2 separate regions of the Homo sapiens genome follow, and region 2 is linked to region 1. Evidence: fine-mapped expression QTL. A gene starts in region 1. The other region holds a variant in brackets. All regions are shown on one strand. Distances are from middle to middle. Region 1 holds the start of MEIOB (meiosis specific with OB-fold). Region 2 has its middle 11 kb from the start of HS3ST6.

Region 1 (5,370 bases):
TGCCTGTCACTCCTTTGTGACAGCTCCTAGATGTTTTGACAGCTGGCATGCTCTGGGGAGCTGACCATGTAGCCAACTACCGTTTCTTTAGCCAGACATGTGAGCTATTTCAGCTCTGACCCTTGTTCGCTCACCCTTGACTTCTGCATCAAGCGGCAAGGGCAAGCTAGCATTTCTAGTCCTTATTTCTGTTCGTGTACATCCAAAATATATTGACAAGTCAATCCTATTGTTAAGAGCAAGCCAATTTCACAGAACTGCTATAAAAAATGGAAGAAACAAATTCCGTACACAACAAGGGAGACTTAATTTCACGAGCGTGAAGCAATTCCACTCTTTTAGGCTTGTATTTTGAAGCATCGTGGCTTATGAGAAGCCTGTTGTGTCCTGGCAAGGCTGACACTGTTTGCTTAACCTTATGTAGCTTTCTGCAAAAATTAATTTACTAAAACGTGACAAAATTTAAAAAATTTTAGAATATTATTGCTTCACTGAGGCTCAAATGAAAAATGCATGAAAACTATTTTTATATTTTTTCCTCTCCTTTAAGATGGACTTAAAATGCTAGTTTATTTTATTTTGTTATTTTGTGTTTTTTTTTTTGAGACAGAGTCTCTCTCTGTTGCCCAGGCTGGAGTGCAGTGGCCCGATCTTGGTTCAATGCAACCTCCACCTCCTGGGTTCAAGCAATTCTCCTGCCTCAGCCTCCCGAGTAGCTGGGACTAAAGGCGCATGCCACCACGCCTGGCTAATTTTTTGTGTTTTAGTAGAGATGGGGTTTCACCGTGTTGCCCAGGCTGGTGGCCAACTCCTGAGCTCAGGCAATCCGCCCACCTTGGCCTCCCAAAGTGCTGGGATTACAGACGTGAGCCACTGCCCCCGGCCACTAGTTTATTCTTTTGGAAAGATAAAGATAGGTTTTTTTTTTTTGTTTTTTTTTTTTTTTTTTTTTTGAGATGGAGTCTCCATCTGTCACCCAGGCTGGAGTGCAGTGGCGTAATCTTGGCTCACTGCAACCTTTGCCTCCCAGGTTTAAGCGATTCTCCTGCCTCAGCCTCCCGAGTAGCTGGGATTACAGGCTCCCGCCACCATGCCTGGCTAATTTTTGTATTTTTAGTAGAGATGGGGTTTCACCACGTTGGGCCAGTCTGGCCTCGAACGCCTGAGCTCAGGCAATCTGCCCTCCTCAGCCTCCCAAAGTGCTGGGATTACAGGCATGAGCTACCAACCCCGGCCAAAAATATCTTCTTTTAAAGGCAGAGACTGGAAAGGAATAGGGACGATTTAAAAACCCAACTCTTCCCATTATATTTGAAATGGTGAAATGCAGGTACTTTATTTTGCTTCCCAGTATTATTTGGGAAATTAAAAAAAAATGAGGAAAAGAAAAACTGTATTTTAATAATAACATAAAACTTGGTTCTACAGTGGTATTTTTCTTTTATAATATGTGTGTGTTATATGCACCAAAGTTGTTCTTCTCTTTTTAAAGAGAAACTTAAATAATGCTACATGTGGACAGTAGTAGGTGACAAATTTAATGGACTTAGTTTTTGGATCTTACTTGCCCTGGGTTGGTACTCTGTTAACAAAAATTAGTATAAGTCATTAAACTAAAAAGATTTCTAAATGGAAGTAATTAAAAACATGAAGAGCTGAGAAAATTTTTGTCAGATTCACCTAAGTCCAATCCTTAGCACATCTAATTATATATATATTTTTCATACATAGATATACACATCTAGGGTTTTTTCTTTCTTTTTCTTTTTTCTTTTCTTTTGAGACGGAGTCTCGCTCTGTCACCCAGGCTGGAGTGCAGTGGCGCGGTCTCAGCTCACTGCCAGCTCCGCCTCCCGGGTTCACGCCATTCTCCTGCCTCAGCCTCCGGAGTAGCTGCGACTACAGGCACCCGCCACCACGCCCGGCTAATTTTTTGTATTTTTAGTAGAGATGGGGTTTCATCTTGTTAGTCAGGATGGTCTCCATCTCCTGACCTCGTGATCCGCCCGCCTCGGCCTCCCAAAGTGCTGGGATTACAGGCGTGAGCCACCGCGCCCAGCCCATCTATGGGTATTTTCTTGATGTACTACATGCCAAATCTATCATTAGATGTAGATATATTAATTAATTAATTAATTAATTAATTTTGTAGAGACAGGGTCTTACTCTTGCCCAGGCTGGAGTGCAGTAGCGCCATCATAGCTCACCACAGCCTTGAACTCCTGGGCTCAAGCGATTCTCCCCCCTCAGCTTCCCCAGTAGCTGGGACTACAGGCATGCATCGTCGTGCCTGGCTCATTTTTTCTTTTTTTTTTTTTTTGGAGACAGAGTCTCACTCTGTTGCCCAGGCTGGAGTGCAGTAGTACAGTCTCGGCTCACTGCAACCTTCCTCTCCTGGGTTCAAGCGACCTCTCCCGGGTTCAAGCGATTTTCATACCTCAGCCTCCTGAGTAGCTGGGACTACTCGGGTGGGCGGGCGGCGCCACAAGACAACCAGGCACTCACCACCACGCCTGGCTAATTTCTTTCGTATTTTTAGTAAAGACGGGGTTTCACCATGTTGGCCAGGCTGGTCTTGAACTCCTGAGCTCAGGTGATCCGCCCGTCTCTGCCTCCCAAAGTGCTGGGATTACACGCGTGAGCCACCGCGCCCGCCCTTCATAATATTATAGATAGAGAGATATGTTTATTTTTTTCCGGCGCACCGTCTTTTGGAATCCAGCGACCACAGAGCCACACGCGGCTGTGAGAGCGCACGGAGACCCCTCCCCGCGCCTGCGGCTGTCTTGTCCCTCTAACTCCCAAGAAGGAGGAAACGGGAACCGGGCTCCCCTCCCCTCCCCCGAGGGCTGAGTCTGAGCGCGTTGGGGGCGGAGCCAGTGAGCGGTGGGGGCGGAGCCAGTGAGCGGTGGGGGCGGAGTCAGTGAGCGGTGGGGGCGGAGTCGCTGAGGACGGGGCGGGGCCTCGCGCTAACGGTCGCGCGGCCGTCGCACCTGCACGAGGCTGTGGCCCGAGCGTCCTGTGGAGAAGCCGCGAAGCGCGGGCGACCCGGGGGTCGGGCGGGCCAGGTCCGCGAGGCCGCGGCGGCAGCTGTGCAGGCCCGGGGAGCAGCCGGCCGGGCGAGCCTCGGGTAAGCAGCGGCGTGGACGGCCAGGTGGCGACGCGGGCCAGGCCTCCAGCTGTGGGGCGGCGTCCGAGGAAGGGAGCCCGCGCGGGTCAGGGCCCGGCTCCTCCTCCCTGGTTCAAGGATTCCCCTGCCTCAGCCTCCCGAGTAGCAGGGATTAGAGGCGTGCGCCACCATACCTGGCTAATTTTTTTTGTATTTTTAGTATAGACGGGGTTTCACCATGTTGGCCAAGCTGGTCTCAAATTCCTGACCTCGCGATCTGCCCACCTCAGGTGCAACCCCATCTCTACAAAAAATACAAAAATTAGCCAGGTGTGGTAGCAGGCTTCTGTAATCCCAGCTACTGTGGAGGCTGAACCAGGAGACTCGCTAGAACCCGGGAGGTGGAGGTTGCAGTGAACCAAGATCGCACCATTGCACTCCGGTCTGGGCAACAGAGCAAGACTCTGTCAAAAAAAAAAAAAAAAAAAAAAAAAGGGCCGGGCGCGGTGGCTCAAGCCTGTAATCCCAGCACTTTGGGAGGCCGAGGCGGGTGGATCACGAGGTCAGGAGATCGAGACCATCCTGGCTAACACGGTGAAACCCCGTCTCTACTAAAAATACAAAAAATTAGCCAGGCGTGGCGGCGAGTGCCTGTAGTCCCAGCTACTCGGGAGGCTGAGGCAGGAGAATGGCGTGAACCCGGGAGGCGGAGCTTGTAGTGAGCCGAGATTGCGCCACTGCGCTCCAGCCTGGGCGACAGAGCAAGACTCTGTCTCAAAAAACAAAACAAAACAAAATTGTAGGGTAAAAGAGACAGTAGTTGTTGAATGAAGTCATCTCTGAATTCTCAGATTGAGCTCTTTAGTTCATGTTAATTTTGTATCTGTTAAAGTGACCAGGTAGAGAAGCAAGTCATATTTTTTGTGGGCAGACACTAACGTCTATTACCATATACCTCTAACGGTAGCAGACAAATAAGGGAATTCAGAGAGATAATAGGATACCATGTCCCACCAAGAGATGCTAAGGGGTAAAAATGTGGAGAAATCCCTTGGTGTGTAGGTAGTTGTGTTTGTACAGAATATTCAGCCACTGAGTCAAATGTCTGACTCATCCTCTCGACTCACATGTCTGGCACTTTGGGCTGTAAATAAATATTAGTTGAATGGTTGAATGAGTGAATGAATTTGTCACAGTTCGGCAAGTGTTTTAGATAGTGACACTGCATTGTGAGCCACATCAGACCAGGCCAAAGAACGAATGAAAAACTTGACACAGCTTAATTCCCAAATGTTTCTTCTGGCACTGAAAGGCCTTGAATACAAAAACTGGTACATTGGATAATATTGACAAGCAGGGCCATCATTGACTGTGAGCCTGTGAACATCGAGGCATCTTGTATACACTGTTTCTACTTTTCACTGCCAGGTGGATGTTATCCACAATTTAAGGATGAGGAAATTAATGTTTAGTAATGTTAAAACACACGACTACAAACTAGTGGTGTTGCAATTCAAAATCATATTTGACTAACTCCACAGGCTGCCTGAAATTCAGGTGTCATGAGACACGTCCTTGAACTGGAGCGGGTGGGTGTGGGCATTCCCAGAGTTAAAGAGGCCCTGGATTATAAAGTGAAGTCAATCTGTTTGGTGTAGCTTACAATTTTTCTACAATAGAACCTTTTAGAGTGATGATGTTGAGGGACAAACCACCATTTCGTTCATCTGATATTTATGGTTTTCAGTTATGAAATACATACATAAAAATACGTAAGATGCCACCTCTGCCCTCATGTAGTTTTACTATGTAGAGGTGTGTTTAAAATCAATAATTTTCCCGGGCTGGGCTCAGTGGCTCACGCCTGTAATCCCAGCACTTTGGGAGGCTGATGCGGGTGGATCATCAGGTCAGGAGATCGAGACCATCCTGGCTAACACAGTGAAACCCCATCTCTACTAAAAATACAAAAAAATTAGCTGGGTGAGGTGACACATGCCTGTAGTCCCAGCTACTCGGGAGGCTGAGGCAGGAGAATCGCTTGAACCTGGGAGGTAGAGGTTGCAGTGAGCTGAGATCGTGCCACTGCACTCCATCCTGGGCGACAGAGCGAGACTCCGTCTCAAAAAAAAAAAAATCACTACCTTTCCCTTCACACAGTATAATCAAATGCTCAATATGAGGTGTTTACGTAGATTTTTGCTGTATTTTTTGAGGTAAGCTTGATGCTAATATATATTTAAATCCTTAAATGTCCCACT
Region 2 (5,370 bases), 57 kb before region 1:
TCCCCGAGAGTGGACTCAGGCCCAAGAGCAGACTGGCCTTCGCCTGCAAACTGGGCCCCTGTGTGCAGGGTTTTGTCCCCAGGGCTGTCTACCAGGCTCAGGCCGGTAGCTGGGTGGCTGGAGGCCTGCTGGCGCCTGGGGATCTCAGCCACAGCAGTGCAGGGGTGGTGATCCTGGTGGGGGCTGGGGAGTAGTGCCTCCTGCCTGCATCCCAGGGCCCCAGGCTCATCCAAACATCCATGTTAAGGTGGTGGGCCGGACACAGTGGCTCACGCCTGTAATCCCAGCACTTTGGGAGGCCGAGGCAGGTGGATCACCTGAGGTTATGAGTTCTAGACCAGCCTGACCAACATGGAGAAACCCCATCTCTACTAAAATACAGAATTACCCGGATTACCCGGGCGTGGTGACCCATGCCTGTAATCCCAGCTGAAGGGGAGGACTGCCCCTCCACACCTGTGGGTATTTCCAGTCGGGTGGGACGAGAGACTGAGAAAAGAAATAAGACACAGAGACAAAGTATAGAGAAACAACAGTGGGCCCAGGGGACCGGCGCTCAGCATACTAAGGACCTGCACTGGCACCGGTCTCTGAGTTCCCTCAGTTTTTATTGATTATTATTTTCGTTATTTCAGTAAAAAGGAATGTAGTAGGAGAGCAGGATGATCATAAGGAGAAGGTCAGCAAAAAACATGTGAACAAAAGAATCTATATCATAATTAAGTTCAAGGGAAGGTACTATGCCTGGATGTGCACGTAGGCCAGATTTATGTTTCTCTCCACCCAAACATCTCAGCAGAGTAAAGAATAACAAGGCAGCATTACTGCAAACATGTCTCACCTCCCACCATAGGGTGGTTTTTCTCCTATCTCAGAACTGAACAAATGTACAATTGGGTTTTATACCGAGACATTCAGTTCCCAGGGGCAGGCAGGAGACAGTGGCCTTCCTCTATCTCAACTACAAGAGGCTTTCCTCTTTGACTAATCCACCTCAGCACAGACCCTTTACAGGTGTCGGGCTCGGGGACGGTCAGGTCTTTCTCATACCACGAGGCCATATTTCAGACTATCACATGGGGAGAAACCTTGGACAATACCCTGCTTTCAAGGGCAGAGGTCCCTGCAGCTTTCCACAGTGCATTGTGCCCCTGGTTTATTGAGACTGGAGAATGGCAATGACTTTTACCAAGTATACTGCTTGTAAGCATTTTGTTAACAAGGCACGTCCTGCACAGCCCTACATCCCTTAAACCTTGATTTCATACAGCACATGTTTTTGTGAGCTCCAGATTGGATCAAAGTGGTTGGGTCAAAGTGGCTGGGGCAAAGCTACAAATTAACAACATCTCAGCAAAGCAATTATTTAAAGTACAGGTCTTTTTCAAATGGAGTCTCTTATGTCTTCCCTTTCTACATAGACACAGTAACAGTCTGATCTCTCTTTCTTTTCCCTACACCAGCTACTCGGGAGGCTGAGGCAGGAGAATCGCTTGAACCTGGGAGGCTCAGGCTCAGCCTGGGAGGCTGAGGCTCAGGGAGGTTGTGGTGAGCCGAGATGACACCATTGTACTCCAGCCTGGGCAACAAGAGCAAATCTCCGTCTCAGGAAAAAAAAAAAAAAAAAGATGTGGTAGGGAGGTGGGGGTGGGAGGGGGCAAGTGGGCTCAGGAGGTGGGGGGGGTGCCGGCAAGCAGACTGCTTGAGTGGGGAGACGGGTGAACCGCAGGACCCCAAGGCCCCCTCACATTGAGAGTCCAGGGAGGGATGGCTGTGGGCAAGGTCTGTATGCCAGGTCACCGGAGGAGGGGGTGGTGTTTCCAGCAATGGAGCGTCTGGTGTGGAATCAGTCACCTTACCCTCCCGCTCCTGCTGGGTGATACCCCATCCTTGCGGCTGCCCCCGCGTCTTCCTTGAGGAACAGCAGACTCTGAGGGGGCAGCCCCTTCCTCCCCAGGGCACGGCCTTGCCCCTCAAGGGTTGGGTTCAGGGGCAGCGGGCAGGCCTGGGCACGGCTGGGCCGTCACCTCGGGCGAGGGATGGGGAATAAAAAGGAACTCTGTCTGAGACACCGTGATCCCTCGCCGGGGCCCAGGCCTGGCTCAGAGCAGCCACCAGGAAGCGTCTGCGGCCCGTATGGGGGAACAGACCATACTTCAGACCCTTGCTCAACCACCGCTTTCCGCTCTCTCAGTGGCAGGTGCCGCGCAGAGCCTGGCCCTGGTGGGGCTGTGGCCCCTGGTGGGGGTGGGGGCCGTGGGCAGCTCCCGGGAGGCTCCTACCCGCGGACGGGTCGGCAGGTGGGAGGAGGGGGCGTCCGGTAGGGTCGGCGAAGGCGCCGAGGCCACGTGCAAGCCCCGGCCCTCGAGGCGGCCTCCCGGGCCCGGGCGCGGGACCGTGCGCAGGACTGACCAGCAGGGGGCACGCTCGCTC[G/C]GTGCTGCCAGGCCGGGTGGTCTGCGTGCGCAGGCGCGGCGGGGGGCCTGACGGCGCTGCAGTTCCCCGGGTGGCCGCGGGGGTTGCGGCGGAGGCAGCGAGCGTCCGCGCAGAGAAACCGCCTCGGCCACGCCCGCCCTTGGGCCGGTGCTGGGGACCCAGGCCGAGGCCTCTGGTCGTCTGAGGGTGCCAGGGGCAGCTGCAGGGGGTTTGCCGGGCTTCACGAAGTGACCGCTACAGGGAGTGCAGTCGCAGCCACGGGTGCCCCTTCCAGGGTCACCGGAGGACAGAGCCAGGGGCGGGGGCGGGGGTGGCGCGGCCGGTGGGAACGGCAGGCGTGGTTGGGGGCGCGGGTGGAGGCAGGACGCCCCCAGCCCCTTCTTCAGGGCAGCTGCGTGGGACCCAGGCTGCCCGGACCTGGCCCGCCCTCAGGGCTAGATCCTAGGGTTCCACATCCCAGGCCTCTTTCCTCCGCCCACCTCTCCCCGCTACAACCCAGGCAGCTCCTGGCTGCCTTCCCCCAACCAGAGTCCTCTCTGCAAAATAATAACCAGACCAGGTCCCTCCCTCAGAGGTTCCCACAGTCCTTGCCTGCTCTGACCTAGGCTGACCCCACCTCTCCAGCTTGATTTCCTACTCCATAAATGAGATCGGTGTTGTTTATCATAATTACAGTTTGGGGTTGTTTCTTTTTTTTTTTTTTTTTGAGACGGAGTCTGGCACTGCCGCCCAGGCTGGAGTGCAGTGGCGCGATCTCGGCTCACTGCAAGCTCCGCCTCCCGGGTTCACGCCATTCTCGTGCCTCAGCCTCCCGAGTAGCTGGGACTACAGGCGCCCACCACTGCGCCCGGCTAATTTTTTTGTATTTTTGGTAGAGCCGGGGTTTCACTGTGTTAGCCAGGATGGTCTCGATCTCCTGACCTCATGATCCGCCCAGCAGGGCCTCCCAAAGTGCTGGGATTACAGGCATGAGCTACCGCGCCGGGCCTGGTTGTTTCTTCTTGAGAAGGGGGTTTCTCTGTTGCCTGGGCTGGAGTGCAGTGGCATGACCATGGATCACTGCAGCCTTGAATTCCTGGACTCAAGCGATCCTCCCAGGTCAACCTCCCGAATAGCTAGGACTACAGGTGTGCTACTACGCCCCGCTAATTTTTGTATTTTTAGTAGAGACAGGGTTTTGCCATGTTGTCCAGGCTAGTCTGGAACGCCTGGGCTCAAGTGACACTCCCGCTTTGGTCTCCCAAAGTGCTGGGATTACAGGCATGAGCCACTGTGCCTGGCTAATTTTTTAAAAAAACTTTTTGTAGAGACGTGCTCTGGCTTTGTTGCCCAGGCTGATCTTGAATTCCTGGGCTCAAGGGATCCCCCACCTCGGCTTCCCAGAATGCTGGGATTATAGGTGTGAGCTCCTCAGCCCAGTCAATTATGTTGTTGTTACTGCCCGCATCACCTGAACCCAAACCCTTTCACCTGCACCTCCAGGCAAACCAGACCCCACTCTAGAAACACATCCTTGCATTCCTAGAGTTTGTTTTTCCTTCTTCTGTTTTGTCCTTCCACACGCATCACAACCCTTCTAGAAGCTTTTCTTGGGGGCTCTGCCCCAGTGGTCCTCTCCTTCCCCCACAGCAGGGGCCTGGGTGGGCCTCCTCTGTGCATGCAGACTGGGCCCCTGTTACCCTCTTGCAGGCCTCACCCATCCTAGGTCAAGGAGCTCCTCAAAGCCATCAACCACAGCACCTTCATCTCATTCTCTCTCTCTCTTTTTTTTTTTGAGATGGAGTCTTGCTCTGTCGCCCAGGCTGGAGTGCAGTGGCACAATCTCGGCTCACTGCAACCTCCGCCTCCCAGATTCAAGCGATTCTCCTGCCTCAGCCTCCTGAGTAGCTGGGATTACAGGCGCGCGCCATCACGCCGGCTAATTTTTGTATTTTTAGTAGAGAGGGGGTTTCACCATGTTCGCCAGGATGGTCTTGGTCTCTTGACCTCGTGATCTGCCTGCCTTGGCCTCCCAAAGTGCTGGGATTACAGGCGTGAGCCACCATGCCCAGTCTTTTTTTTTTTTTTTTTTTTTTGAGATGGAGTCTTGCTCTTTTGCCCAGGCTGGAGTACAGTGGCACAATCTCGGCTCACTGCAACCTGTGCCTCCCCCGGGTTCAAGTGATTCTTCTGCCTCAGCATCTCGAGTAGCTGGGACTACAGGCATGCACCACTACATCCAGCTAATTTTTTTTTTTTTGTATTTTTATCAGAGATGGGGTTCGCCATGTTGACCAGGCTGGTCTTGAACTCCTGACCTTAGGTGATCCGCCTGCCTCAGCCTCCCAAAGTACTGGGATTACAGGCATGAGCCTCCACACTCAGCCCCAAATATATTTTAAGTGTCTCCTTTTCTCTATCACCAATGCCACCTCCCCAGCCCAAGGCTCAGTCATTCCTCACCTTCAGTACTGTGATAACCTGGTTTAGAACCTAGTTGATTCGGGCCAGGCGCAGTAGTTCGGTCTCCCAAAGTGCTGGGATTACAGGCGTGAGCCACCATGTCTGGCCCTCATTCTGTTTCTTAAATGCTGAGCCCTCGGGGTGCTGCGTACGGCAGCAGCAGATGAAGAAATGTTCACCCACTCACACCACCTGCTCCGTACTCCCCTTCAGGGTTGCACAATCTTGGGAGGGGTGCCAGATGTGTACCCCACATCTACATGGATGTGTTGGCGGTCTGGGGAATGCAGGGTCCTCAAGCCACCTATCACCCTCTCCAGGGCCTGGGCACTAAGGCTGTGGTTAACAGAGCTTGGGGTAAGAAGCCCTGGGAAGAAGGTTGGTGGGGCTTCAGTGACAGAGGGCCAGGAGGCGGCTGGGGAGGGGCTCAGGGTTACCTGTGGATAAGCTTTCTCCACTTCCAACCCCTCACGGCCCTCCACTCCCTGTCTCCTT

The links. PIP is the estimated chance that this variant, and not a neighbour inherited with it, causes the effect.
Region 2: its variant is fine-mapped to the expression of MEIOB in caudate (GTEx, PIP above 0.99).

What each region holds. Positions count from the first base shown.
Region 1 is chr16:1,869,753-1,875,122 of GRCh38, reverse strand. MEIOB (meiosis specific with OB-fold) reads left to right here and starts at 2,959. Exons shown (of 14, transcript NM_001163560.3): 1 at 2,959-3,130.
Region 2 is chr16:1,926,918-1,932,287 of GRCh38, reverse strand. No RefSeq gene overlaps it. Among named protein-coding and RNA genes, the nearest start is that of HS3ST6, 11 kb to the right of the region's middle. The variant G/C (reference allele first, on the strand shown) is at 2,434.